Linked DNA regions of Homo sapiens. The protein of the gene in region 4 purifies or fractionates together with the protein of the main gene of each other region. This does not show direct contact. Each region holds a gene or a part of one and is shown on either strand. Other genes may lie near its edges.

Region 1 (7,027 bases), on a different chromosome or scaffold from region 4:
TTGAAAGGTTGGACAAAGAGGGATAAAGGAGAGATTAAGAATTATCCCTAAGTTTATGGCAGAATCAACTCAGGAAAGGTATCATTAACTAGACTAGGAACACTGAAGAGGATCAGGCTGGTGTACATGTTGAATCTGTGGTGCCCACCTCCTAGTACAGAAATATATAGTTGGGTACAAAAATCTGAAAACCAGACTTCATTCAAAATAAAAAATTTGGGAGTTATCCCAATATGGTAAATTAAGTCACAGCAAGACGATTATCTAGGGAGAAATGGCAGAGTGGGAAAAAAAAGATGGCCTTGAGAAACTCTAACACCTAGAGGTGAAGAAAAAGAGGATAATCTAGAAAAGGACTGAAGAAAAAGTCTGAGGTAGGAGAAAAAAAACAGAAGAAGGTGGCATCCCCAAATCCCAGTGAAGAAAGTTTCAAGGAGGGCTGAACTGTCAAACACTGTTAAGAGGTCAAGTAAAATAAGGAATTCTCTATTTTCAGTTTATAGGGAAACTGAAATGCATGCATCATTTAGAGGAAATAGTATAATCATTGGCAACATGAAAGCATCATTTTTTTAATTTAAGTTCTGGGATACATGTACAGGACATGCAGATTTGTTACATAGGTAAACGTGTGTCATAGTGGTTTGCTGCACCTATCAACTCAAACCCATCACCCAGGTATTAAGCCCTGCCTGCTTTAGCTGTTTACCCTGACAGAGCATCACTTTTATGCCATGTTTAAAGAAGCCTCTTATTCAAGCTTTTTCAAAGTGAAAATTAATTGGAGAATAAAAAAGGAGTGACTGGACTTTGTATTGCATGTCCAAAACAACTTACCTTTTCCACAAATACTATGTTTAGCAAATACTGACATACTTTTATAGGGAAAAAGTCATAATTTTCTGATGCATTGTTTTCTGCTTTTCTGTGTAGTAAAGGTTTGGGTACATATGACAGCCAATCTTCAAAACCCCCTATAAACTTACCCCTTTCTTATTTATACATGTTTTTGAAACTATGTAGGCATTAAGAAAAATATGGAAAGATACCCACAAAAGTTACTTGGCAGGAGGAATATATAAATAGAAAGGTCTTAGTAAGAGGAGGCAGGCAAAAACTGGAAAAAAAAGAGCAGTTAAAAAGTTATGACTTCACTTATATACATATATAGTTTATATATATTTTATTGTATATATAACATAAATTATGTGTCTTATTTACATAAAGAAATTAGATGAAAAGAATGCAGTTAATATATATAATACTAAGTTGCTTCATTAAGTGAAAAAGGCAAGATTCAAGGAATATTCATCTTTATTAAAGATAAACCATTTATGTTTGCATTAGCAAAGATAAAAGTGTGGAAGGATACATAAGAAGCTAACACTGATTCCTTCTACGAAACAGAACGAGAGAGTTTTGCCTTCATACATCTTTGAATTGTACTGTTTCACTTAACACATATTTGTCATTTTGAAAAATTAGAAGAAAATTACTTTTTTGATGTTTAAAAATACATACCTTGACCTTGCCATACTTTAGAAGGTATAACTAATATTTTGTCACAGGATGCAGAAGGCTGGATCCACCGCCAAACCAGAAAATCTGCACCACCTATTCTTCGTGTTTCCGTGCGAACTCTAGACTCATTAGCAGCAAGGAAGTCAACAGCTCTATCCCAGACTTTCTTCATTTTTTTCCTATCATGTGAACAAAATGGCAAATTTACTATCATCTTGGCTTGTCATCTTTTTGAAATATTAGTATCTGAGGTAATAGTTAACTCTAGCTGTTCTTACCACTACTCATGGAGTTTGTTCAAAGAAGATTTAGATGCCTATATCTCATCTCAGATTTTCTGAGTTTCAATTTCCAGAGCTAGAGCACAAACATCTGTATTTTTTTTCCCCAAAAGCTCCACTGGCTTTATGTGTTGCTAGGGTCAAGATGCTGCTTCAGGATATGGAATTATCTTTTATTTTCAAAAAGTTGCATTTTAGTTTTTACTTTAAAAGCTTCATTAATAATAAAGTTAGTACTTAAAAAACATTAGTAAAACACCAGCCACTGGCTGTCATCTATTTCTTTATCAAGATGAAATTAAAGGAAATAAGATGGAGACTAACAACAAAGAATCAAGAATGCCTAGGAATGAGAATGACTTAGAAATCCAGGTGTCACTCAAAATCAGGAGAATGGAAGAGAATTTAGAAAGAGAGTATAAAGTACAAAAACAAAGCAAAACCAAAAAAAACCTGTGCAGTAAGCAAGTCTAGTTGAGAAGGGTCACAGCTCTCAATATAATTTTCAATACTGCAGAAAGCACTTAAATTTTCTGATTTACTTGAACTCATAATGCTTTGAACACACCTGTCATGAGGCTGTATTAAGGAATCGCGTACATGTGGAATAGGCATGTAAGGTTGTAAATCTTTGTTTTCCTGGCAGGCTTCATTATGACTTCGTAAAACATCTAAAAATAAATAAAATTTACAAATGAATCAATCACTTGACATAATGTAGTTTAATCATGCAATGACTCTTCTAGAAATAGTTGAGATTCTTACAAATATCATACCTATAATCTTTACCACCATATCATACATCTGCCTTGTTTCCTCCTCTTCTTTTGTCCATCGATATTTCATGTAACGCAGAACGACACAAACCATCACTACACCTGTAATATTAATATACTTTGTATTTTAAAAATTGTGGTCAATATCATTCAATAATATTTCAGTGATTATTTTAACTGCCACAACGGAATGAACCTTCAAGACAGATGGCTGAATTAGCTATATAATTAAAACTACATAAAAAAATTTAATACTGAACATTTTCCAAAGATTCACTTTCTAGAAAAAAGCATTTCTTCCATTACACTGATAAGTGAACATTTAAATTCTAACTACTATTTAAAAATATATATATATAACTATGTTTCACAAACTTTTTTCCTTTGAAGCATAAAACGACTAGAAAAGTGAACCTCATGAGATTAAACATACTAAATCTTACTTTAAGTAAAATGAATTTTTCTTTTGTTGTTGTTGTTTTTGAGATAGGGTCTTACTCTGTCATCCAGGCTGGAGGGCAGTAGTGCAATCATGGCTAACTGCAGCCTCCAACTCCTGGGCTCAAGAAATCCTCCTACCTCAGCTTCCCAAGTAGCTGGGACTACAGGCACGTGCCACTATGCCTGTCTAATTTTAAAAATTTTTTTGTAGAGGTAGGGTCTATGCTTCCCAGGCTGGTCTTAAACTCCTGAGTGCAAGCAATCCTCCTGCCTCCCAAAGTGCTGGGATTACAGGTGTGAGCCACTAAAGCTGGCCAAAATGAATTATTTTTAAAGAAGAAAGAAAGAATGAAAAAACAACTCTCACCTAAATCCCTATTATCAATTAAAAAATGATAAAAATTTTAAATGTAGGTAAATTACATTTTAAAAACTAAATTTTAATAAACTTTATAACACTTTATTATTTAAAAATAAGCTCAATTTTTGTATTTTTCAATTCTACTTTCTAAAGTAGATTTCTATGTATATACTGACCACACTTGTTTTTCTGTGACAGTCTTATAACAAAGTTTTATTTCTACCTCTCCTTATATTACTGCTTTCTAAGCCTTTAGAATGATTCTGACATTATTTTTATTATATTTAGTGAAGACATCTAGCTGTGACTTATGTGGCAACCATCACAAAAATGAATTCTCAACTCTGGCATTTAGTGAAATACACACAAAAATTCAGGCTGCAATTTATCTCATTTCTTATCTTTACAACTTACCTAAGCATAACAACAATAATCTGTGAGTTACAGTAACAAAAGCACGTCGAAAACGACACCAAAAAGACATCAGTGGTCTTGTGGACTGTAAAAACTGCACATCAGTTATATTTGTCAATTCTTCCTCAGGGCCAAAACCAACACACCTATTTAAAAATAAGTAAGGTAGAATTTAAAGTCAAAAACCATTTCTCCCAGTACAGAATGGTCAAAGTGGAAATCAGATCCTTTACCTTATTCCAACATCTTTTCCATTTTCTAAGATCCACTGCAATGAAGTGTTAAATATACCTTCATATTCAGGACCTAAATCCTAACAAGAAAAATAGAGAAAAATAACTATTCTTAATCTACATTCGACTCTCTGTAAAGTATCCTTTATAACACACTCTATATAACATTTTTATTTTAACTACATAACATAAAATATTCATTACAGAAAATTTTAAAAAGAATGAGAAAAAAGAAAAAAAAAGTTAGCATTTTCCCACTACTCCAATATAATCAGTGTTAATATTTTGCTTTTTTATATTTTACATATTTGGGAACTGAGTCTCTCTCACTCAGGCTGGAGTGCAGTGGGACAATTTTGGCTCACTGCAGCCCCCGCCTCCTGGGTTCAAGCAATTCTCCTGCCTCAGCCTCCCAAGTAGTTGGGATTACAAGCATCAGCTACCAGGCCCAGCTAATTTTCTTTTTTCGTACTTTTAGAGAGACGAGGTTTCACCATGCTGGCCAGGCTGGACTTAAACTCCTGACCTCAAGTGATCCGCCAGCCTTGGACTCCCAAAGTGCTGGGATTACAGTCATGAGCCACTGCGCCTGGCTTGGAAGTTCTTTTTTTATCATTAGTTTATCAGTGCCATCATAAGAGTGAATTTACCACTTTTAAAAATGCAATATTATTTATAGATGAACAAATAAATGGCAAACTCTTCCAGATTTGGATGTTTCACAGACAAGTATTCTCAACACATAAAAGCAGTAAGCCTATCAACTAAAGAAAAACTGACCGGGTTACCAATTATAAGATTTGAGCATTCAAGTAAAAAGTAGAATTTTGAAAAACTAGCATTCATCTTTGTGACCTGGACAACTTCACAATACTTGAAGACCTTTCCAATGAGATTTGTGTGACATTAACAAATGCAGTTTTTTGATATGGAATAATGAAATGTGACCAATGCATCTGAAAATGACCAATGCATTTGAAAAATTCTGATTTTTATAAAAACCAATCACGCATAGGTAAAAGATCCATTCAAAGTACAAAATAAAAGGATTTTATGAGACAAGAGTACAAAAAGTTCACTGGCACAGTCTGACATTCCACATTGCAACTAACATTTAAGAAACTACTACTTATAGAGGTTTGGTATGGTATCAAAGAAAATATCTATCTACAATTACCTGAAAAGGCAACTAAAATACTTTCCAATGTTTTGACTACATATCAATGTGAGGCTGGATTTTCATGACATACTTCAACTAAAACATCATGACAGATTGAATAAAGAAGCAGATAAGAATCCAGTCACCTTTTATTAAGCTACACATTTAAGAGATTTATAAAATATATAACAATGCCACTGTTCTCATTGAATGTTTTCATTCTGGAAAAGTTATTTTTCATAAAAATACATTACGTTAACATATAATAGATTCATTTTTCTTATTCTAAATACATAAATTTTTTTCAGTTTTAATTTTTAATATAAACATGTATTTGTAATACATATTTACCATTAGAAAGTAAATATATCTTTCTAATAGAAACAAAAACATATAAATGTATATCTCCCACAAACAAAAGCCAGAGTCCTCAGTAATTATAGGGAACCAAAAAGCTTAAGAACTGCTATGTGTGGGTAGAGTATTTTTAAATTAAAATAGTAAAAATAAATGTGGTATCATATTACACATACTACTGTTCTACTTGTTTTCTTCATGGAACAAAATATTGTGTCAATGTCAGTTTACATGGAAAAAACCCTATTTTTTTCAACAAAATAGTATTCCATTGTATGATTATTCTATACTTTTAATCAACACCTTATTAATGAACATTTAGAATATGTCCAATTTTTAAAAATTTATCAAATATAATACTGTTATAAACACCTTTACCATGTGCCAAGTACTATTTTAGAAACTAGAGGTGCAGCATAAACAACACAGTGAAAAATTCCCTGTGTTCATGGAGCTTGTATTATTAGTATGTCTTTATGTCCCTTTTGAGCAAAAAATGAATTTTTTTTTTTTTTGAGACAGAGTCTTGCTCTGTCACCCAGGCTGGAGTGCAGTGGTGCGAACTCGCCTCACTGCAACCTCCATCTCCAGGGCTCAAGCACAGTCTTGTGCCTCAGCCTCCCAAGTAACTGTGATACTACAGGCGTGTGCCACCACACCCAGCTAATCACTGTATTTTTAGTAGTAGTAGAGATGGGGTTTCGCCATGTTGGCCAGGCTGGTGTCGAACTGCTGGCCTCAAGTGATCCGCCTGCCTTGGCCTCCCAAAGTGCTAGGATTACAGGCATGAGCCACTGTGCCTGGCTCGTAGAGGAAAAAATGAATTTCTAAAAACAGAAATAAAAAGTCATTTCAAATTCTCTCTAAAAAAAAGATTTTTCTAAGAAGTGTCCTATTGTATTTTATCAACAGATTCTTCAACAGCATTGGAAATTATAAGGTTTTCATTTGATCAGTATAGTTTACTTCCTAATATAAAACTGGTAAGTTATTCTAATGTATCAAATTTGCAAATGTAATAAAAAGTTTTATAAAGCAGAACTAATCTTGTTAGGCATCATTACATGAAACTACTATTAGGATTTTTAAGATGGTGAAGATAACTATAGGCCATCTGTTTTTTTAAGCTTGGGTGTTTATTATAGCATTTACAAACATCAAAAAAATTGCAGACAATGTATTTAATGATTGAAAAAAGGTTTATATATGAGATCATTTCAATGGATATTATGAACTTAGAAATAATCATGATGAGAGCTAAACAGCTATCTGCTTAAAAAAATAAAACTACAACATTTAATTTATATATACAGTCATACCTCAGTATTCACAGAGGATTGGTTCCAGGATGCCCCATGGATACCAAAATCCACAGATGTTCAAGTCCCTGATATAAAATTGCATAGTATTTGCATATAACCTATGCACATCATTCTTTATACTTTAAATCATTTCTAGATTACTTATAACACCTAATATAAATG
Region 2 (7,027 bases), on a different chromosome or scaffold from region 4:
GAGGGGGAGAGACTGGTGACCTACCTGTTGGTAGAACAGTCACAACACACAATTTATTATATTTGCCATCTTATAGGGGCACAGTTTGTGGTGCTCCAAAACAATGACAATAGTAACATCAAAGATCACAAATCAGCGTAATAAAATCCTAATGAACAAGTTGAAATATTGCAGGAATTACCAATCTGTGACAGCCATGAAGTGAACACATGCTGTTGCAGAAATGGTACAGGTAGACTTGTTCAGTACAGAGTTGCCACACACCTTATATTTCTAAAAAAAAAAAAAAAAAAAAAAAAAAAGCAGTATCTTCAAATTGCAATAAATCAAAGCACAATAAAATACTGTTTGTACAAAATATGTTTTAAAGGTTTGGTATATAAAGTTTTTCAGAAACATGTATACTTTTATTTTTTACGTGGTTGGAGGCAGGAGGGTGTGGTAAGAATAATGCTTTAACTGTTAACTTGTTCATAGGATTGTCTTATTTAAATTCTACCAGTGAAGTTCAGGGGCTGTGGTGTGTTTGTTTTTTTCTGGGTTTGGTTTTGTTTCCCCTCCCCACATTTCCATCCAAATCTTAGGCAGTTATTGTGTCTGTACAAAATACTGGTATTATTTATAACTGTTCTTTGGTCTTCACCTCTGTAGGCAGTAACTTTGCAGACCTCGCTACTTAAATTAGAGCTTCCTGACTATGTTCGTTTGGCAATGTTGGATTTTGTATCTTCTTTAGGAAAACTTTTTATACCTGAAGCTATCCAGGTAATATTGCTTAACTCTGTTCTTGTATTATTAAAACAAAATCTCTATAAGAGTTAGTGATTAAGGGATTTTTAGGCTTTTTCTGAAATTTTGCAATTACTGACAAAGTTGGAAAAAAAAAACTATGTTCCAGACAGATTATAAAATCTATTTATAACTTATAATACAACTCATTTTAAGTTCTTTTCTTTTAGAAAAATATATGTTGATACACAAATAATTAGTTGGCTGTAGTCTACCATATTAGATTCTTATTCCAGTTGGGTTCTAATACATAGTTCCTGTGTATTTGTCTTATAGGGAACAGCATGTAATTAGGAAATTTGGTAATTTATTAAAGTTATTCTCTTCGTTTTTTATCCATGAAAGAGAACCTGTTTTTAAAGACGATATTTTTGAAAGTGTTGCAAAATATGTATAGCTGACAAATAGATTATTTATAAAATTATACTGCACTGGCCTGGCAATACACATCTACTGAATTTTAAAACCTCAGTAAATGTATATTACCAGGCCAGTACATAATTTAAAGAACTTACAGCAAAGAGATCTTCATAAATTGAGAATTACGCCTTCCTTATTACTATAGTCAAAATTTAGTAATTCTAGTAATTGACACTTCAATCTCCAAGGGAGAGACTATAAAGAGTTCACTAATGAGAACTTTCTTACATAATTAAAGCAAACACATTATAGACAGTATCTCAGAACATGTAGATTAAACTCTTTGAAACCAAAAATTTAATTTCTAAGGGGCTCTTTTATTTGTTCATAAGTTAACAGTATCCCATCTGTCTCCATCATGTTAAGGTTTTATTTCATGAGATAAGCATAGAATGTTGACAGCTTTTCAGCTCTCTTGACAAAAATATCCAAAGACACTTGGCATCTGAGCTGTCTTCTTTTTACCATGAAATAAATCTATTCCAAAATGCTGCTTCATTTGTGAACCACTATGGACTATGCACGGGCCTAGAAATTATGAAACAAATGTTTTATAAGCAGAAATCGCAGTGCCTTCTGTATTCCCAGGAGTGAGGTCAAGACCTGAAGAAATTTTTGAGATTCATCAGAACATAGGAGGCATTTAAAGCCATGAAATGAGATTGACTGATTTATCCATTCGGGAAAGATTACGTTTTTGCTGTACCCAGTGCTGTTTTAATCATTGGCAATGCAGTAATGAACCAAACTAATAAATCCCCACTGTTAGCCTGTTTAGAGGCAATAAACAATAACAACATGATGATATGTGCAGTATATTAAATGGTGGTGAGTGCTATGGAGAAAAATAAAGCAGGGAAGGAAGATAGGGAATATGAATGTGGGGGTCCAATTTGAAATGGGATATATAGTTAGTGAAGTCCTCACCAAGGTGACATGCAAGTAAAAACCTGAAATGCAAAGCACTGGAGATGGGAGCATGCCTCATATTCAGGGAAGCAAGTATAGCTAACACAAAGGTAGCAGGACTTTGCAGGTCATTTGAGGACTTTGGCTTTCACTAACAAGGGAAATAGGGAGCTACTGGAAGGATTTGAGTAAAAGAGTGACATTACCTAATATGTTTTAGTGTGTGTCCCCTGGGACAGGATTATGTTAACTTGACAACACTGGGCTTATTGAATGTATGGCTATTTTATGATTATCTATTATGGTTTCTTTTCTCTATTATAATAAGGCTTGGTTCTTTTAGGACAGAATTCTGCCCAACCTGTCCTGTATGTTTGCCTTACTGCTAGCTGACAGGAGTTGGCTGCTAGAACAACATACCTTGGAGGCGTTTACTCAGTTCGCTGAGGTAATTATAAAACTGATTTATCACAGTGACTTTCAAACCATTTTAATATTTCAAATATTCCAGAACAATCCCAAAACATTTATTGAACTGCTTCTGTATTGCAATCGGAAAATTGTCTGAAGGGTACATTACTCGTTATCTCTTTTACAGCTTCTCAAAATGAGGCTTAGATAAATGAAGTGAATTTCGTAAGGTCCTCTGAATAAACAAGGACCAGAACAGGCATACACAGCAGGCCTACTGATACAGACAGACACAGACACAGTCTTCCAGCAGATAGTATTTTTGGGTCAAATGATAATACATTTCATTTTGTGCTATCAGTCATAAGGGTTAGGCTGATGAACCTAAACCTGTAAGATGGGTTGCTCCTTTACTCTTACTGCATTTGCTGTATAGTCATGCCTATGATCATAAGGGAGTCCAGAAGCATTAGTATGACCCAGCAGAAGTAATTAAAGCTTACAACACTTGTACAGAAGTTAATTTTGTATTATCCTTAGGGACCCTGAAGGAATCATGAGTTTATCACCTTTGAGGATCCTCTGGGACTCTTACTTAAAATGAATTTTTGGTTAAGGTAGCTCATAAAACTCATCTATTTGTCTTTGCAAGTTGTTGAAATGTTAAAATTGGTCTTGTTCATCAATTTTTTAATAGGGAACAAATCATGAAGAGATAGTTCCACAGTGTCTCAGTTCTGAAGAAACTAAGAACAAAGTTGTATCCTTTCTGGAGAAGGTACTTTCTTTACATGGCTCATGTTTTATTCTTTGTCCTATTTTTTTTTTTCCGAAATTATGTAACTGTAACCAACCTGAGTGTCTTCTTAGCTTAAACTTTTCACAGTGCTGAGCACAGTGCTGACGACTTTTACTAAGCAATTGAGGCCACAGAAGTAAAACACTTGGGGCCAGGCGCGGCGGCTCATGCCTGTAATCCCAGCACTTTGGGAGGCCAAGGTGGGTGGATCATGAGGTCAGGAGTTCAAGACCAGCCTGGCCAACATGGGGAAACCCTGTTTCTACTAAAAATACAAAAATTAGCCGGGCATGGTGGTACGCGCCTGCAGTCCCAGCTACTCGGGAGGCTGAGGCAGGAGAATTGCTTGAACTGGGGAGGTAGAGATTGCAGTAAGCCAAGATCATGCCACTGCACTCCAGCCTGAGCGACAGAGTGAGACTGTCTCAAAAAAGGACACTTGTAGTTCCTCTGCCTGTAGTTTGGGGTGTAATAGCACTGATTATCCAGGCAGTGAGATGACTAATGAGGATCCCTAAGCTATTAATAATCATAATTAAATACACTTGATCACATAATTAGGTAGGCCTGAGAGGATGTTTACTACCATATTTTGGGTATAATTTAGGCATGGCTTTTTTTTTTTTTTTTTTTTTTTTTTATTTGGGCAGCCTCCCAAGCCAGGGTAAGCTCAGGGCCCTTTTTTTTTTTTTTTTTTTTTTTTTTTTGGCATGGCTTTTTTATTCTCTTTGCAGCCAAGACCTGTTTTTACAATTAAAACCAAAATTTTGAATCACAAGGTTCCTATGTCTATGCATACTTGGGAACTTAGTGTGAGGAAATAATAGTTAATTGAAATACTAGTGGAACTGTTAAACCACAAATTTAGACTACCAGGAGAAACTGAATTATTTGATATATTACATGTAATGATGCACGTTATATATTTTACATATATTACATATATATTTTTTTAGGTGAAATGGGCCCACTTGACTCACTGAACTTTATTTTTTAGACAGAGTCTCGCTCTGTCGCCCAGATTGGAGTGTGGTGGTGTGATCATAGCTCGCTATAACCTCAAACTCCTGGGCTCAAGCATTCCTCCCACCAAAGTCCTGGGATTAGAGGCATGAGCCACCACACTTGGCCTACTTATATTACATCTAAGCTGGATTTTAAGTACATGTGTATACACTGCTGTTGCCAGTTTCTTAGCTTATACAGTAAAGGTTAGCAGACTATCATTTTTTCCTGCAAAGACAACTCTATAACTAACTATTTTGTAAGGAAGAACACAGTAGAGTGATTTAATCCAGATTATACTAAGAGTATTTATAGATCAGTCCATGTGACTTCCAGAATTTGCCTAGTATGGTTGAACACTCAGCACTTAAATTATGTGGCCATTTCATATCTAGTAGAGTGCTAACATGTTGCTATTTGCTTGGTTTTTCATGGTCCCTGGCAGACTGGGTTTGTAGATGAAACTGAAGCTGCCAAAGTGGAACGTGTGAAACAGGAAAAAGGTATTTTCTGGGAACCCTTTGCTAATGTGACTGTAGAAGAAGCAAAGAGGTCATCTTTACAGGTATGGGCTGATTTCAATAGGGGCCAAACTTTAACAAGGCAAATTCTGCCCTTTTTACTTACTGACGAAACAAACCAGTGTGGTTTCCAGCCTTATGCTGAATTTCAAATCAAATAGATCTAGACATGTAAAATTCTGTTTTATGGTAGTTGCTTTTAAAATTAAGAAGTGGGACTACACCATATCAAATATATTCTTTCAGTATGTTTGAATTATTGGTAGTAACCTTTAAGGGAAGTTACATATTGTACCAGTGATGCTATAAATGCAGTCTTTACTGAACCACAGAAGAAAATGAAAGAAACTTACTCCTAAATGTTTAGTTTGATTCCTTGCCTTATTAATCAAATGAGTCTCCTAATAATTTTTGGCAGTAACTGAAGATCACATCTACTTATTAAAAGGCAGAATTTGACACCAATAAGGATATTCAAAATATTGTTTTGAGCACTATTAGTATAGTAATTAGTATAGTAGTAATTCATGAAGAACAACATTCTGATAAGTTTTAGTCAAACTCTCATAAAAAGAAAATACATTTATGAACTTGTTTATAAGACATGTAAGCTTGGACTATGCAGCACTTCTCATTGGGAGCCCTTTGGGACAGGATACTTGTTGTATACCACATACAAACTAAGACACTGGTAGTAGCACTCTGAATTGCTATGATAAACCAAAATGCCTTTACATATTTTTCTAGATGACTGTGTAGGGGTTTTGGGGTGCATCCTCCTACCCTTGTGATCCAATGACTAGAATAAAATTTGCATGTAAGCTTTACTCCAGTCCAAAAGGAAGGTTCTTTATATTTAGAATGGATATTGTGATATTACTTATGTTTTTTTTCCAGCCTTATGCAAAAAGAGCTCGTCAGGAGTTCCCCTGGGAAGAAGAGTACAGGTCAGCGCTGCATACAATAGCAGGGGCTTTGGAAGCAACTGAGTCACTACTCCAAAAGGGTCCTGCTCCAGCCTGGCTTTCAATGGAAATGGAGGCGCTCCAAGAAAGGATGGATAAGCTAAAACGTTACATACATACTCTAGGGTGAAACTTATCACTAGGCAGAACTGGGTTTGATGCTTTGTCAACTGAAAATACTTATGTCTGTACATTTTCTAACAGATATAAAACAAATTTTGTAAAGTTGAATCTAGTGAAAATAATCTTTATTTGACATTTAGAGAACAGGATTGTGGGGAATATTCTTATTAAGAACTTTGGTACAATGTACTACATGTGGAACAGTCAGGAACTGCCTAGGTCCACAAAGAACCATTTACTCAGATAGTCTAACTGTAAACAAATAAATAAGCTGCCTAAGGAAACCTCAGCAATTTAAAATCATTTATATAATTTATAGCTAAAATTTTTTAAAGTTGTATTTCATAATAGAGCTTACTCTTATGTTAAAGAATGGCACAAAATTAAGCTAACCAGCTTGAATTACATTTTCTTTACTTCCAGAATTGTCCTGGAAAAAGCAGTAAATTCGACCTCTCCTCAGCTACTTGCTCTTCATAGAAACTGGCCTCAGTCAAATGCACAAAGGCTCTTCCTCCTGGAAACCAGTACTGTGAGCCTCACCACCCAGGGCTTTTAGCCAGCACTCACAGTCAGTCTCCTACTTCAGTTGGCACAGACTGGATAATGAGCTCCTGGGATGGGAAAAGCAGGCCACTTTGGGGTTTTCTTGTCCCAAAGCCTGCTTTTGAGGTATTGATTTTTTTTAAAAAAAGGGAATCCTTTTTCCTAAAGTTTAACTCACATCTATTGTCACCAGTTATTATCTTCCCAGTTCAGCTCCCCTTCTTCTTCCCAGCCTTCAGCCTCTCCCTGCAACAAAATAAAGCACACCAAGAACCCACTGAAACAAATCATATGCAAAAATCATACGCAAATTTGAAAAAGCAGGAATTTAAAATTTATCTTTTGATGCCAGAAACACTACCTCGTACTAAGTAAAATAACTTAGAGCTCTAACAGAAAGTTGAAAAGTAGGATTACAAAACCATGGCACTGGAAAATAGCTTTTCAAAAACCATAAAATCCAGTAAAAATCAGTGTGGATGACACCAAATCCTTATTTTAATCCCTTTTTTTTCTTTTTCAAATAAAAAGGTTACAAT
Region 3 (7,027 bases), on a different chromosome or scaffold from region 4:
ACCCACCTCAGCCTCCTAAAGTCTTGGGATTACGGGTGTGAGCCACCACACCCGGCCTTGACAGGGATTCCTGATGAAACGTCTGACACTGATTCTTCATGGTGACTCCTCTAAGTCTCCCTAAGACTTTGCTGAGTGTAGCTGTCCACACAGCAGGCACTAGGAACAAAAGAAAACAAGACGGATCAGGGAATGCTGCCGTTCTCACCGGCCACGGCTGCAAATGCGACAGACATGTACCTGTCGCCTCAGTGGAGAGACTCGCTGGTGACCACAATGCGCAGATGCGGTCTTGTCAACCTAGCGCCTCCCTCTCTCCTCCAACACCCTGGAGAAGAGGCGTCCAGGACTTCCCATCCCTCTAAGCCTTCTCATAGCAAGTTATTTCACAGTGACCTTCTTTTACCAGTTCTCGATTTTATTTAGGACTCAAATTAACACCAACCAAACATATCACTAACTCACTTATTTTCACATTTTCAAAGTTGGATTGTGCTGCAAATCCATACATTTGTGCTCACTACACATTTTTTTTATTACATTCATTGAGAGGCTCCAAAGCATCAGTCCAATAAACATTTTTCCAGCCCGATAACCATCCTTCGTAAGAACTAAGAGGTAAAATCATTCACACAACTATTTTTTCCCTTCTATCCTTAGCTCATAAGCATTTGACCAAATGCCAATGTTTTTGCCAGTTCATGTTGTCCGTGCCTTATCACAAGTGACATGTCTACAGGACACGGTATCCACTGACTTTGCTTCCTTGGTCCCAAGAAAAGGTGTTGACAAATTCCATAGTTTGGTAAAATGAGTGAGTCTGCAATTGTGGGAGGCATTTTGTTTTTAGCAATGAATCACATTACATTGTACCTAACTTCTCAAGCACAATCTGATACTAAGATGATGAAGATAGTTCTTAAAAACTCTTTATACCAGATGATTTTTAAAAATCCACATACTTTTCTACCTAACATAGATGTTGTAGGGTGAAGAGCCTATGAGGCTTGTTTGGCACTCCTGCTTCATTTGATAATTTCTCCACGCAAACAAGACATTTAGGCTGAGAAAGAGAACCAGCAAGAATCTGGATGAGCTGGGCACAGCAGCTCACGCCTGTAATCCCAGAATTTAGGGAGGCAGAGGCGGGAGGATTGCTTGAGTCCAGGAGTTCAAGACTAGCCTGGGCAACACAGCAAGACTATGTTCTCCACAAAAAGGGAGGAAAAAAATCTATATGAACCCAAATTTGAGGCAGGTGCTGTATTGCCTAATTAGTGGCCATTTGGGTTTTTTTGACCAGTGGTTTTGTGAGTTTGATGATATTCTGGACTTAGTAAAAATGTGAGAAAGTAAACAACTGTAAAAATTAAATCGATTCCTGGACAGTGGGAAAAAAACGGGGCAATCTCGGCTGGGCGCGGTTGCTCACGCCTGTAATCCCAGCACTTTGGGAGGCCGAGGAGGGCAGATCACGAGGTCAGGAGATCAAGACCATCCTGGCTAACACGGTGAAACCCCATCTCTACTAAAAATATAAAAAAATTAGCCGGGTGTGGTAGCAGGTGCCTGTAGTCCCAGCTACTCAGGAGGCTGAGGCAGGAGAATGGCGTGAATCCGGGAGGCGGGGCTTGCGGTGAGCCGAGATCGCGCCACTGCACTCCAGCCTGGGCGACAGAGCGAGACTCTGTCTCAAAAAAAAAAAAAAAAAAAAAAGGGACAATCTCAATAGGCCTGTGGTTTAGTTAACAGCAATGCAACAATGCTTATTTCTTTGTTTTGATATTGACTTGGGGGAAGGTGAGGGTACATGGAAACCCTGTACCGTCTCTGCAACTCTTCTGCAAATCAAAAATTACTTCAAAATAAAAAGGTACACAACTAAATTACTAAATATAAACTACTCAAGGAGACTGCAAAGGCTTTATGGGTTCAGAAAGTGGATAAGAGAAATATGAAGGCCTCTGAAATCTTCAAAACGTTTTAAAACAAATTCCACTGAAAAACTCAAAAAATGAAGTATGCGGCTTACAAAAATAGAAAAATTAAAATACTTTAGTTCATTAAAACTCTGAAAAAATTCAAGTACAAATGACTTACTCTCATAAGTTCTTTTGCTTAAACTGATTTTCTGAAGCCCCAAAGGCATATAATCTGCTTTAATGAATTCATTTAATAAACTATTTTAAATTAGGTGCAATTGTTGTTTTAAAAATAAATGTTAAACATTTATTCAGCACAAAGTGGTCTATTCAAAAAAATTAAAAAATAGGCTAGGCGCGGTGGCTCACGCCTGTAATCCCAGCACTTTGGGAGGCTGAGGGGGGGGTGGATCACGAGGTCAGGAGTTCAAGACCAGCCTGACCAACACAGTGAAACCCTGCCTCTACTAAAAATACAAAAAAAATTTAGCTGGGCGTGGTGGCGTATGCCTGTAATCCCAGCTACTCAGGAGGCTGAGGCAGGAGAATCGCTTGAACCCAGGAGGCGGAGGTTGCAGTGAGCCAAGATCATGCCACTGCACTCCAGCCTGGGTGACTCTGTCCCAAAAAAAAAAAAAATCAAAAAATAATTCTTTGAATGTTTCTAAAAACAAATGATAATTTATTATGCAGTTTCAACAAATGTTGGCTTTTTTTTTTTTTAAACAAAGAATGGCTACTTCATAGGCAGAGCAGCCACTTTTGGCTAATTTTTAACATCCAAAGCTAATAAATAATCAAGAAGAAATAGAGAACATTAACAAAATAAATTATGTTCTATTTGGGAATACCTAATATCAGATACTAACAAGTACAGTGATAAGAATAAAAAAGATAATAATCACACATACCTTCTAGGTTAGTAGAAAAGTTAGGAAAAGATATTAAATTTAAAGAAACAATATTTTGCATGCACACAAAAAACAAAGAACTTCGCTCATGATGTGGAAATCATGACCCAGCAGCAATCCGTCTTCCTGGTCCAGATCACTGGAAGGCCCGGGTGGGGCCCCCTGGGGGCAGCCACGCAGAACCTGCTGGACTTAACTCGCCAGAAAAATCACCACCCAGTTCAGGAAGTTTGCAGAGGGAAACCTACAAATGGTCCACGGATATGACTTCCCTGCTCCTGGAGGGCTCCCTCTGGAAGAGGCTTGCAGCATTCCAGTCATAGAATGTGGGTGAGCACTACAGCGGGCAGCCTCCCACACCTGCTTGGCTGTAGGCCCAGGAAGCCCCCGGAGGCCCCTCTGGCTGAAGAGATCAGACTCAGCTTGGAGCCCTGGAGTTGATGCAGCAAGACCATGTTTAATGAACACCAAAGCTGGCGGTACAGATGAGGGCCTCAGGGGCTCAGGCGGGGGCCTGGAGGGCTGCGGTGGGCTGAGATGAGTGGCGACTTCCCTCCCATACCTCTCCCCGTGAGAGGGATTCACCCCATCCCCCTGCGAGCCTCTCAACAGTCCTGTGAGGAGGACAGCAGGGCATGGGGACTGGCCCCATTTCACAGCTGGGGAAACTGAGTTCCAGACGGGTTTGTCAGCTTGCCCAAAGCCACACAGGGTTCCCGGTCCTTCCTCCTGCACCACTGTGCGCCCAGTCAGAGGCTACATGAGCAGATGGTCAGGGGAGGCTAAAGCCCCATGGGAGGAGCAGGCAATGGTGTGGGGATGGAAAGTGGCACGGTGCAGGGGACTCCAAGTGGCACTGGCTGGAGGCCAGCAGGGACGGGGGTGGGGGCAGGACTGCTGGTACCTGCCTCTGTGACCCAGGCTTCCATGGTCCCAGAACAGCCACTTGGGCCTCTGTGTCTCCCTTCTCCCCTCCGTGGTGACCAGACCCTCAAGACGAGTTGAAGGAGGTCATGGGGCATGGAGGGAGGTCACAAGGCAGGGGGCTGCCCCCTATAGTGCCCAGAGGCAAGGCCTCCCCTGGCACCTACCTGCGTCTGGCCAGCGCAGGGCTCAGGCAGGGCAGGGGCCCAGGGGCCCAAAGGCTGTAAGGTGAGAGGCTCACAGAAAACCCTGACACGTGGCCAGCCACAGCACCACAAGAGGGACAGAGGGAGGACATGCATCCATGCAAGGTGGCCAAGGAGGTGCTGTGTGGCCAGGGCCAGGGGAGGGCACGGGGCCTGGTGCAGAGAAGCAGTTGGGGCTGCACTGAGATGAGCATGCCACAAAGAGGGGCTTGGGCGTGACCCTGGGCCCCAGGTCATTGCAATGACAAAGAGGTGAAATGGGCAGCTGCAGAGGCTACAGGAGCTCAAGGAGGCCTGGGCTGGAAGGGAGGGGAGCTGAGAAGCCCCCTGGGTCCAGGCTTCTCTGGGCAGACCCCTGGAAATGGAGCTTGCTGGTCTGGGTCGGTCCCTGAGGGCCTCTCCCGGGGCTACCTCTTCAGATGGGAACACGCAGGGAGGCCCAGCAAAAGCTTCAGGCTCTGCAGAAACACAAGGACATGTGACATCCCCCTCCAGCTCCCACCCTCCCTGGGGGTGGAGCCCAGCACAAATCCCACCCTCCTCCTCCCACCCAGCAGCTCCCAAACGCAGCCCAGGGGAGCCTCAGAGGCAGCCAAGAAGGGTTAATGTGAGAGGTGGCCCAGGAGGCCTGGGGAGGGAACTGGGGCAAACGCCCAGGACAGGGGGTGGGGTCCGCCAGGGGGCAGGCCCAAGGGTGCCAGTCTGTTCTCGGGATCTACGCTGGGATTCAGTCGCCAGCCAGCCAGGCTGCAGGGCCCTGCTCAGGAGGGCGCGATGCTATGCGGCACCAGCAGGGGGCACCACAGGCCCACCCTTAGCTGCACGTTCCCACTGCCGTTGTACTCCCACCCCAGGGGCTCAGGCTGCCTAGAGAGGCTCAGGGGCAGCAAGACCCAGACACTCCCAAGGCCTTGGGCTATGGAAGCCTCCACGGAGGAGGAAGGTACTTCCTATGCCAGCTCTGGGTGGGGCTGGGGGCACAGCAGGCCCTCCAGCTCTGACCCAGATGCAGGTGGACTGGGGAAGCCCAGCCCAAACCCCAGGTAGAGGCAGCAGCAGGTCCAGGCAACGCCAGGCTTGGCCATGGGGTCCTGCCGTCCCCCAACCCTGCCTACCACATGGGGGTTTCATCTGCTCTCTGCTGCCCGAGGCGGCAGCCCAGCCTCGGCCCACCGCCCCACCACGGCTCAGTCACCGTGGCACAGGCCGTCACTGGGTGTCAGGGTCCTGGAAGCCCCAGGCCTCCACGGCAGCAATGAGGAAGTTCTCGGAGCAGAGGGGCTGGTTGTTGAAGGTGTCGCAGTGGCTTGTGCGGCCCCGGTTCAGGTCCCCATCGATGTAGAGCGCCTGGCCGCCTCCTCCCCCTGCAGGATGCTCAGGTCAGTGGCGGCCTGACTGCCCTATCAGCACTGACCCAGGCACCTCACCTGCTGTCCCAGCTGTCCTGCCCTGCACGGGCCTCTCTGAAACCGCACAGACCGTTGACCCTCCATAGCCCCCAGGACCAGCTGTCCAGGCTGGTCTCTCCCTTCCAGCCCCCTCCCACCCATCATGCCTGGTCCACCCTGACACCCAGGGCCTCTTCTCTGCCACCCCGGTCAGGGAGGGCTGGGTGCAGCAGCTTCAGCTGCCCGGACCCCACACCCTCATCCCAGAGCCCCGTCTGCTGGCGCTCACCGACGATGAGGCAGTCGCTGCCCCCCGCCATGAACATGGACTCGGTCTTGGAGGGCAGGTTGAAGTGGCGAGCGGCCAGGAAGGGCGAGAGGCGGTCAGCGGGGTCTGAGGAGGCGGAGTGGCTGAGTGGGGCGGTGGGCTCGGCAGCCATCAAGGGTGGGGGCTTGGTCAGCTCGGGGTGCTTGATCACCACCCACTCGTAGCGCTGCACCTCAGGCTGCAGCTGGGGTGGAAGGGGAGTGTGAGGAGCTGGCGCGGGCGTTCGCAGGCCCCTCTGCCCCAGAGCCACAACCCGTTTCATCCCGTGAATCTGCACCCAGAGCCCAAGGTGGGTGCAGCCCGAGCCAGGGGCTGGGGAGCTGGTGGCTCGAGCAGATGAAGCCCCCTGCCCCGGAGCAGCGCACGGCTGAATGATCAAACCCGGAAGCACACAGGGCGATGACGCTGCTGGGTGACTGCCATGGCGACACCCAACAGTGTCCCCAGGGCAGGCGGGTGCTCCTGGAGGGATGCAGCTACAGGGTCTGCGTGGGGGTTTGGGGACACTTGGCCCCACTCACCCTAAACACAAAGCATTCTCCGGTCCCAAAGAAGCCCAGTTTGCCTCCAAACTTATTTCTCTCACTCCAGTCTGTGGACAGGTAAGCACCACACACCTGGGGGAAAGGTCTGGGTGAGGCTGTGCCCGCAGGCCCCCAGGAGCGTCCCTGTGCTCCAGACTACTGACGGGCCTGTCCCAGGTCACAGGTGGGGGTGCAGGCATTGCCGTCTCCCACCCCCACCCCAGGGCAGGAGTGGTGTGGGAAAGGCAGTGTTGCAGGTGTGTGCACCCTGCCCCTGGCTTGGGGCTGGCAATGAGGGTGGGCGGGGGCTGTGTTGGGGATAGTCTCATTTCCCCTTGTGGCCCTGAGTGTGGGATGAGCCCCATGTGCTGGCCATACCCACGCTCTGACTCTGGATCTGGCCCAGGAGGCCTAGGCCCTGAAGCCCATCAGAGCCAGCCCTGGAGCCCATCAGAGCCAGCCCTGGAGCCCATCAGAGCCAGCCCTGGCTCCAGGGCCCCTGCTCACCTCCTTCTGCGTGGTCTTGATGAGCAAGAGGGTAGGCTCATGTCCTTCACACTGGAAGTAGAACCTGGCGTAGAGACACGCATGCCAGCTGTCACCCTGCACACCCTCCCAGCCGCCTCCTGCAGCCTCCGCTGGCCCCAGCTGTCTTGGGGCGAAGACCTGGGAACTGTGCTTCCTTCTCTCTGGGTCCCGACAACACCCTCACCCAGGTGTTCTTCTCACCTGGCCCTTCTCTGCCATCCCCAGGACAGCCTGCCCTGGTGTGACTCAGGGGAGAGGCCTTGCAGTGGAAGGCCCCAGTGCAGAGCCAAGCGCCA
Region 4 (6,520 bases):
ATGGTGTGGAGCTGAAACGTCTCCACTGGAGTTTCACGGGGCAGGCAGTTGTCAGCCCCTGTGGCTGGCGGGGAGCGTGTACAATCAACCCTGTGCTTCGGCTTCAGTGATTAAACTGTTTTACCCACCGGGAAAGCCGAGGCCGTTCATGCTGAAGGGGATGTGAGGGAAGATTCCCCCAGCCCAGGAAGCCAAGGTGGTGCCTCTGCCAGCCCCAGAGAGTGGGTCCCCAAAAGATGCAGAGGCCAGAGATGGGGCATGGGCCCTGCCATTTCTAAAGGGGAAGTGAACAAGAAGAGGCGGCATTAACTGTCATTGTCACCCCCACTTCCCGCAACGCCCAGAGGTTGTCCACACACACACACACACACACACACACACACACACACTCCACCCTCACAGGGCACTGGCCCGTGGCCCTCTCTAGCAAAGACACACCCGGCTGCCCCTAGATCCACAGCCCCCCTGAGCCACGGCCCCCACGCATGCACGCACCAGGGAATAAGAGGCCGCAACATCACGTACCATGATCGAACTTCAATGTTGCCAGGGCATGCATCCCACAGTCCACCCCTTGCAGCCTGGGAGCCCTACTGAGGCCCAGAGAGGGGCCGGGACTTCCCCAGAATCACACAGAAGCGGGGTTGTGGGGAACCCACTCGCCCCCACACCAGGGTGCTCTCTGCTCCTACGGGGAGGTGGGGTGGTTGCCTCCTTGTCCAGGGTGACCATGGGAAGCCCATTTGGCGTCAGAAGCCCCGAGAGGCCACCGGGAAGACCATGGGGGCCTGTCCCGTTCCCTGCTCCCCATACAGGCGAGGCTGCGTGCACACAGCTTCCTGTACCCCAGGAGGGCCTGCCTGGCACGCACCCGGTGGCTGCACCATCCACACGCAAGACTGCAACTTCAGATGCTCCGCACGCTGGAGATGCTGGACAGGGGCTCCCGCATCCGAAAGCTGAGCGAGCGGGAGCCGCGAAAGCTGTCCCTTGGCCTCAGAGAGCTGTCGGTGGTGGAAGCTCCGGAGTGAGCCTCGACGGCCCGGGCCAGGCAGTCCCCGGGCCCTCGCATGCCCAGCCGGAGACACCCGCAGCAGAGGAAGCTGAGCACGGCTCTGCACACCTCCCTGCTGCGGAAGGAGTAGATGATGGGGTTGACCGCCGAGTTGAGGACGGCCAGGGCCAGGATCCAGTCCATGCCCCGCAGGTACTCCTGGGCCCAGAGGTTGGAGCCAAAGACGTCGGCCAGCAGCAGCCCGAAGAGTGGGCCCCAGCACACCAGGAAGGCCAGCAGGATCATCAGCACCGTCTTCAGCAGGCGGCGGGCCTTGCGGCGGGCCGCTGGGCGTGGGGCCTTCTGCCCGCTGGCCTGCACCAGGCGGAAGATGGCCCCATAGAGGCCCATGATGGTGGCCAGGACGCCGGCGAAGATCACCAGGCAGAAGAGGATGTAGCGCTTGGAGTAGAGGGGCAGAAGGCTGGAGCAGCGGTCAAAGGCGCACAGGCAGTTCCAGCCCAGCAAAGGCAGCATCCCCAGCAGCGCGGCCAGCAGCCAGCAGAGGCCGATGAAGCCGTAGACGCGGCTGGTCTTGGTGGCCCCGCTCTCGGCCACCGGCCGCACCATGGTGGCAAAGCGCTCCCCTGCAGTGAAGAGCAGGCTGAAGGTGGAGGCGGCCAGGGCGGTGAAGAGCAGGCCCTCCCGTAGGAACCACTGGGCGGGCGCCAGACGGAAGGTGCGGGCCCCCGACAGCAGCACGTTGGCCAGGTAGGCCGCGCCCGTGAGCAGGTCACTCAGCGTGATGTTCACCAGGCAATAGTAGACCCAGCGTCGCGACCGCATGTGGCTGGTGATGGCCGCCAGCACCAGCAAGTTCTCCAGCACCACCAGGCAGCTGGCGGCCACCGACAGCCCCCGCAGGGCCCCCAGGCCGCCATCCTCCGGCCCCCCGCGCCCGGCCAGCCGGCCCGAGTGGTTGTAGTGCAGAACAATGAGCCGGCTGTGCCCGCCGGCCGCCAGCTGTTGGCAGGACTCGGGGGCCACCGGGGTCCCCGTGGCGTTCATGGCCTCCCCCGGGGGCTGACTGAGGCCCGACGCAGGGTGGAGCCACCCGCCTTGCTGGTCTTGGTTTCCTGTTATTTGAAATTTCCTGTTATGTTCAAGGTGCCCTCCAGGGTGGAGGTAAGGCCGAGGACAGGGAGGGGCACCCCAACGGTCGGCCCCCACCCGGGCTCCTGGAGCCAACGCGCTGGGGCTGCCCTGGCTGTGAGGACCCCCACCCCTGCCCTGGCTGCCTTCTTCCTGTCCTCGAAAGCCGGAGACCCGCAGGGAGCCCCGGAGCCGTCAGTCACGGAGGGGAAATGAGTCCCCACTCGGGATGGGCCACCCCTTTCCAGCCGGACGACTCCTCCCCACCAGCCCTGATCACCCCCGAAGCACCCGTCGGCTCCACTGAGGTCTCCCCACATGCTCCACCGGCGCTCAGCACACAGCAGGTGCCTAATAAATGTCAAGTGCCTGCATGCCCTTGAGCACTGACTCATCCGACTTGATCCCCGAAACAGGGCCTGATGCGTTACAGAAGAGGAAACTGAGGCCCAGAGAGCCCGGTGCGTTGCAGAAGGGGAAACTGAGGCCCAGAGAGCCCGATGCGTTGCAGAAGGGGAAACTGAGGCCCAGAGAGCCCGATGCGTTGCAGAAGGGGAAACTGAGGCCCAGAGAGCCCGAGGCGTTGCAGAAGGGGAAACTGAGGCCCAGAGAGCCCGAGGCGTTGCAGAAGGGGAAACTGAGGCCCAGAGAGCCCGATGCGTTGCAGAAGGGGAAACTGAGGCCCAGAGAGCCCGATGCGTTGCAGAAGGGGAAACTGAGGCCCAGAGAGCCCGATGCGTTGCAGAAGGGGAAACTGAGGCCCAGAGAGCCCGAGGCGTTGCAGAAGGGGAAACTGAGGCCCAGAGAGCCCGAGGCGTTGCAGAAGGGGAAACTGAGGCCCAGAGAGCCCGATGCGTTGCAGAAGGGGAAACTGAGGCCCAGAGAGCCCGAGGCGTTGCAGAAGGGGAAACTGAGGCCCAGAGAGCCCGATGCGTTGCAGAAGGGGAAACTGAGGCCCAGAGAGCCCGATGCGTTGCAGAAGGGGAAACTGAGGCCCAGAGAGCCCGATGCGTTGCAGAAGGGGAAACTGAGGCCCAGAGAGCCTGATGCGTTACAGAAGGGAAAACTGAGGCCCACAAAGGCGGCCTGAGGCCAACTTTCTGCCCATGGGAGGACACACAGGTCCAGGGAGAGAGACCCCCAGGGACAAGCTGGTAGGGTCTCGGGGCCAGGCGCCCATTTTGGGATTCATGGTTGCCTCTCCTGCCCCTGAGCTCACCCTGCTGGGAGCAGAGCTGCTGGCCCCCTGGGGCAGCCCCCCACTGGGATTGAGGTGCATAGGAAAAGTAGGGACTTGCTCACCCCATCCCCATGGCCCTGCTGACAACGGCTCACGGTGACTCAGCCTGAGGTGAGGTGGCTGTGGGTCTAAGTGGGAGACACACCCTGCTCTGGCGTCTGAGGAGGGAGGCAGGCTCTGCCCTGGCGTCTGAGGGGGAAGCTTGGACCTGCCTGGGGTCTGAGGGGGGAGGGTTGGCCTTGCCCTAGGTTCTGAGAGGGGAGGCATGACCTTACCCTGGGGTCTGAGCGGAGAGGCTCAGCCTTGTCCTGGGGTCTGAGGAGGGATGCGAGGCCCTGTGCTGTGGTCTGAGAGGGGAGACACACCCTGCCCTGGGTCTGAGGAGGGAGGTATGCCCTGCCCTGAGGTTTGAGCGGGGAGGCTTGAACCTGCCTGGGGTCTAGGGGTGAGGGTTGGCCTTGCCTTGGGGTCTGAGTGGGGAGGCATGGCCCTGTCCTGAGTCTGAGGGGGGAGGCGAGGCCCTGCCTTGGGGTCTGAGGGGAGAGGTGAGGCCCTGTCCTGGGGTCCAAGGGAGGAGGCGAGGCCCTACCCTGAGGTCTGAGTGGGGATGCTCAGCCTTGCCCTGGGGTCTGAGGAGGGAGGCTCAGCCTTGCCCTGGGGTCTGGGGCATGTAGGGGCTTGGACATCATCTGTCACGGATGGAGTGTGAGGTCTCTGCTCTCCAGCTCCCCCAGTGTCTGTGACCCCCCACTCGTCCCCATCCAGAAGGCCTTGGGGTGTGGGGTGATTTGGGAAATAATGCAGGCCCCAGAAGTGTGAGTAGGACCCAGGATAAGTCCCTGCTGGGAGCCTCCTCCCGCCTGCAATCACCCCCAGGCCAGGCCCACTTACCACCAAGGAGGGTCCTGAGGGGCCCCACCTGCCCTCTGTCCCCCCAGGAGCCTGTGGTCTTCAGCCTTCCTGAGACAATGGTGTCCTTGGCCTCAGGGTGGGGGCAGCTACACTAATTCTACCAGTAAGGTGTCCTGGAAGGGTCACAAGTGTACTGCGAGGACACAGGTGTCCCATGAGGGGCACAGATGTCCCGTGAGGGCTCAGGTGTTGAAGGCCGAAAGAATGAGGGTTGTGATCAACTCAGTATACCACTGGAGGCTACGTGAGTAAACAGCAAACTGTTCTCATGAAAGCAGGCTGTTGGCAAACTGACAAACTGCGTCTGCCGCCCAGAAGGAATGCTGAGGGCAGTCACGCCCCAGGCACAAGTGTTTCTTGCAAGTAGGCAAATCTGAAACCTGTTAGCAATAACGTGAACGTGTGAACAATCAAGCAGCTGGCCAATCGTTTCCTCCCCCTGCTTTCTACCCAATAAGTACGAAGGGCTGTAGAAGCTTGGGGGGCTGCCTTTGCTCACTAGAAGCAGGGAGCTCTCTTTTTCTTCCCCTGGTCCCTTCCTTTAAAACAGTTTCTTCTGTCTTAAGTTTTCATTTCTACATTCGTCCCTTCGTTCAGTCTTGTAATGATGGTCTCAAGTAGTAACAATAGTAACTGTCGTAGTGACAGTCTCAGGTAGTAATCATGGCAACCACACACAGGCGTCCCATGAAGGGTACAGGCATCCCATGAGGGCACAGGTGTCCCATGAGAATGCAGGCGTCCCATGAGGGGCACAGGCATCCCATGAGAACACAGGCATCCCATGAGGGGCACAGGCGTCCCATGAGGGTACAGGCATCCCATGAGGGCACAGGTGTCCCATGAGAATGCAGGCGTCCCATGAGGGCACAGGCATCCCATGAGGGGCACAGGCATCCCATGAGAGCACAGATGTCCCATGAGGGGTACAGGCGTCCCATGAGGGTACAGGCATCCCATGAGAACACAGGCGTCCCATGAGGGGTACAGGCATCCCATGAGGGCACAGGCATCCCATGAGAACACAGGTGTCCCATGAGAACACAGGTGTCCCATGAGGGCACAGGCGTCCCATGAGAATGCAGGCGTCCCATGAGAACGCAGGCGTCCCATGAGGGCACAGGCGTCCCATGAGGGCACAGGTGTCCCATGAGGGGCACAGGCGTCCCATGAGAACACAGGCGTCCCATGAGGGGCACAGGCGTCCCATGAGAACACAGGCGTCCCATGAGGGCACAGGCGTCCCGTGAGAACACAGGTGTCCCATGAGGGGCACAGGCGTCCCATGAGAACACAGGCGTCCCATGAGGGCACAGGCGTCCCATGAGAACACAGGTGTCCCATGAGGGGCACAGGCGTCCCATGAGAACACAGGCGTCCCATGAGGGCACAGGCGTCCCATGAGAACACAGGTGTCCCATGAGGGGCACAGGCGTCCCATGAGAACACAGGCGTCCCATGAGGGCACAGGCGTCCCATGAGGGGCACAGGCGTCCCATGAGAACACAGGCGTCCCATGAGGGCACAGGCGTCCCATGAGGGCACAGGTGTCCCATGAGGGGCACAGGCGTCCCATGAGAACACAGGCGTCCCATGAGGGGCACAGGCGTCCCATGAGAACACAGGCGTCCCATGAGGGCACAGGCGTCCCATGAGAACACAGGCGTCCCATGAGGGGCACAGGCGTCCCATGAGAACACAGGCGTCCCATGAGAACACAGGCGTCCCATGAGGGCACAGGCGTCCCATGAGGGCACAGGCGTCCCATGAGAACACAGGCGTCCCATGAGGGCACAGGCGTCCCATGAGGGCACAGGCGTCCCATGAGAACACAGGCGTCCCATGAGGGCACAGGCGTCCCATGAGGGCACAGGCGTCCCATGAGGGCACAGGCGTCCCATGAGAACACAGGCGTCCCATGAGGGGCACAGGCGTCCCATGAGAACACAGGCGTCCCATGAGGGCACAGGCGTCCCATGAGGGGCACAGGCGTCCCATGAGAACACAGGCGTCCCATGAGGGCACAGGCGTCCCATGAGGGCACAGGCGTCCCATGAGAACACAGGCGTCCCATGAGGGCACAGGCGTCCCATGAGAACACAGGCGTCCCATGAGGGCACAGGTGTCCCATGAGAACACAGGCGTCCCATGAGAACACAGGTGTCCCATGAGGGCACAGGTGTCCCATGAGAATTCAGGCGTCCCATGCGGGGCACGGGCAT

What was found.
Region 1: the proteins of S1PR4 (region 4) and LEMD3 purify together in Homo sapiens (co-immunoprecipitation; 2 studies listed by BioGRID and IntAct, with this or other methods). This does not show direct contact.
Region 2: the proteins of S1PR4 (region 4) and FIRRM purify together in Homo sapiens (co-immunoprecipitation; 2 studies listed by BioGRID and IntAct, with this or other methods). This does not show direct contact.
Region 3: the proteins of S1PR4 (region 4) and TBC1D24 purify together in Homo sapiens (affinity purification with mass spectrometry; 2 studies listed by BioGRID and IntAct, with this or other methods). This does not show direct contact.

The regions. Positions count from the first base shown.
Region 1 is NC_000012.12:65,235,582-65,242,608, reverse strand, and holds part of LEMD3 (inner nuclear membrane protein Man1), read right to left. Parts: intron 4,108-7,027; coding exon 4,028-4,107; intron 3,941-4,027; coding exon 3,795-3,940; intron 2,681-3,794; coding exon 2,579-2,680; intron 2,474-2,578; coding exon 2,371-2,473; intron 1,701-2,370; coding exon 1,522-1,700; intron 1-1,521.
Region 2 is NC_000001.11:169,847,039-169,854,065, forward strand, and holds part of FIRRM (FIGNL1-interacting regulator of recombination and mitosis), read left to right. Parts: intron 1-651; coding exon 652-765; intron 766-2,461; coding exon 2,462-2,566; intron 2,567-2,592; exon of another isoform or gene 2,593-3,226; coding exon 3,227-3,307; exon of another isoform or gene 3,308-3,399; coding exon of another isoform or gene 3,400-3,468; exon of another isoform or gene 3,469-4,778; coding exon 4,779-4,898; coding exon of another isoform or gene 4,899-5,015; exon of another isoform or gene 5,016-5,751; coding exon 5,752-5,949; 3' UTR 5,950-6,674; coding exon of another isoform or gene 6,675-6,734; 3' UTR 6,735-7,027. Other genes in the region: SCYL3 (protein-associating with the carboxyl-terminal domain of ezrin), read right to left, coding at 6,675-6,734. UniProt on the Homo sapiens protein: Regulates PLK1 kinase activity at kinetochores and promotes faithful chromosome segregation in prometaphase by bridging kinase and phosphatase activities.
Region 3 is NC_000016.10:2,499,104-2,506,130, reverse strand, and holds the end of TBC1D24 (TBC1 domain family member 24), read right to left. Parts: intron 6,775-7,027; coding exon 6,711-6,774; intron 6,297-6,710; coding exon 6,201-6,296; intron 5,864-6,200; coding exon 5,641-5,863; intron 5,328-5,640; coding exon 5,173-5,327; 3' UTR 401-5,172; downstream 1-400. UniProt on the Homo sapiens protein: May act as a GTPase-activating protein for Rab family protein(s). Involved in neuronal projections development, probably through a negative modulation of ARF6 function. Involved in the regulation of synaptic vesicle trafficking.
Region 4 is NC_000019.10:3,174,335-3,180,854, reverse strand, and holds S1PR4 (sphingosine 1-phosphate receptor 4 precursor), read right to left. Parts: upstream 2,087-6,520; 5' UTR 2,063-2,086; coding exon 908-2,062; 3' UTR 523-907; downstream 1-522. UniProt on the Homo sapiens protein: Receptor for the lysosphingolipid sphingosine 1-phosphate (S1P). S1P is a bioactive lysophospholipid that elicits diverse physiological effect on most types of cells and tissues. May be involved in cell migration processes that are specific for lymphocytes.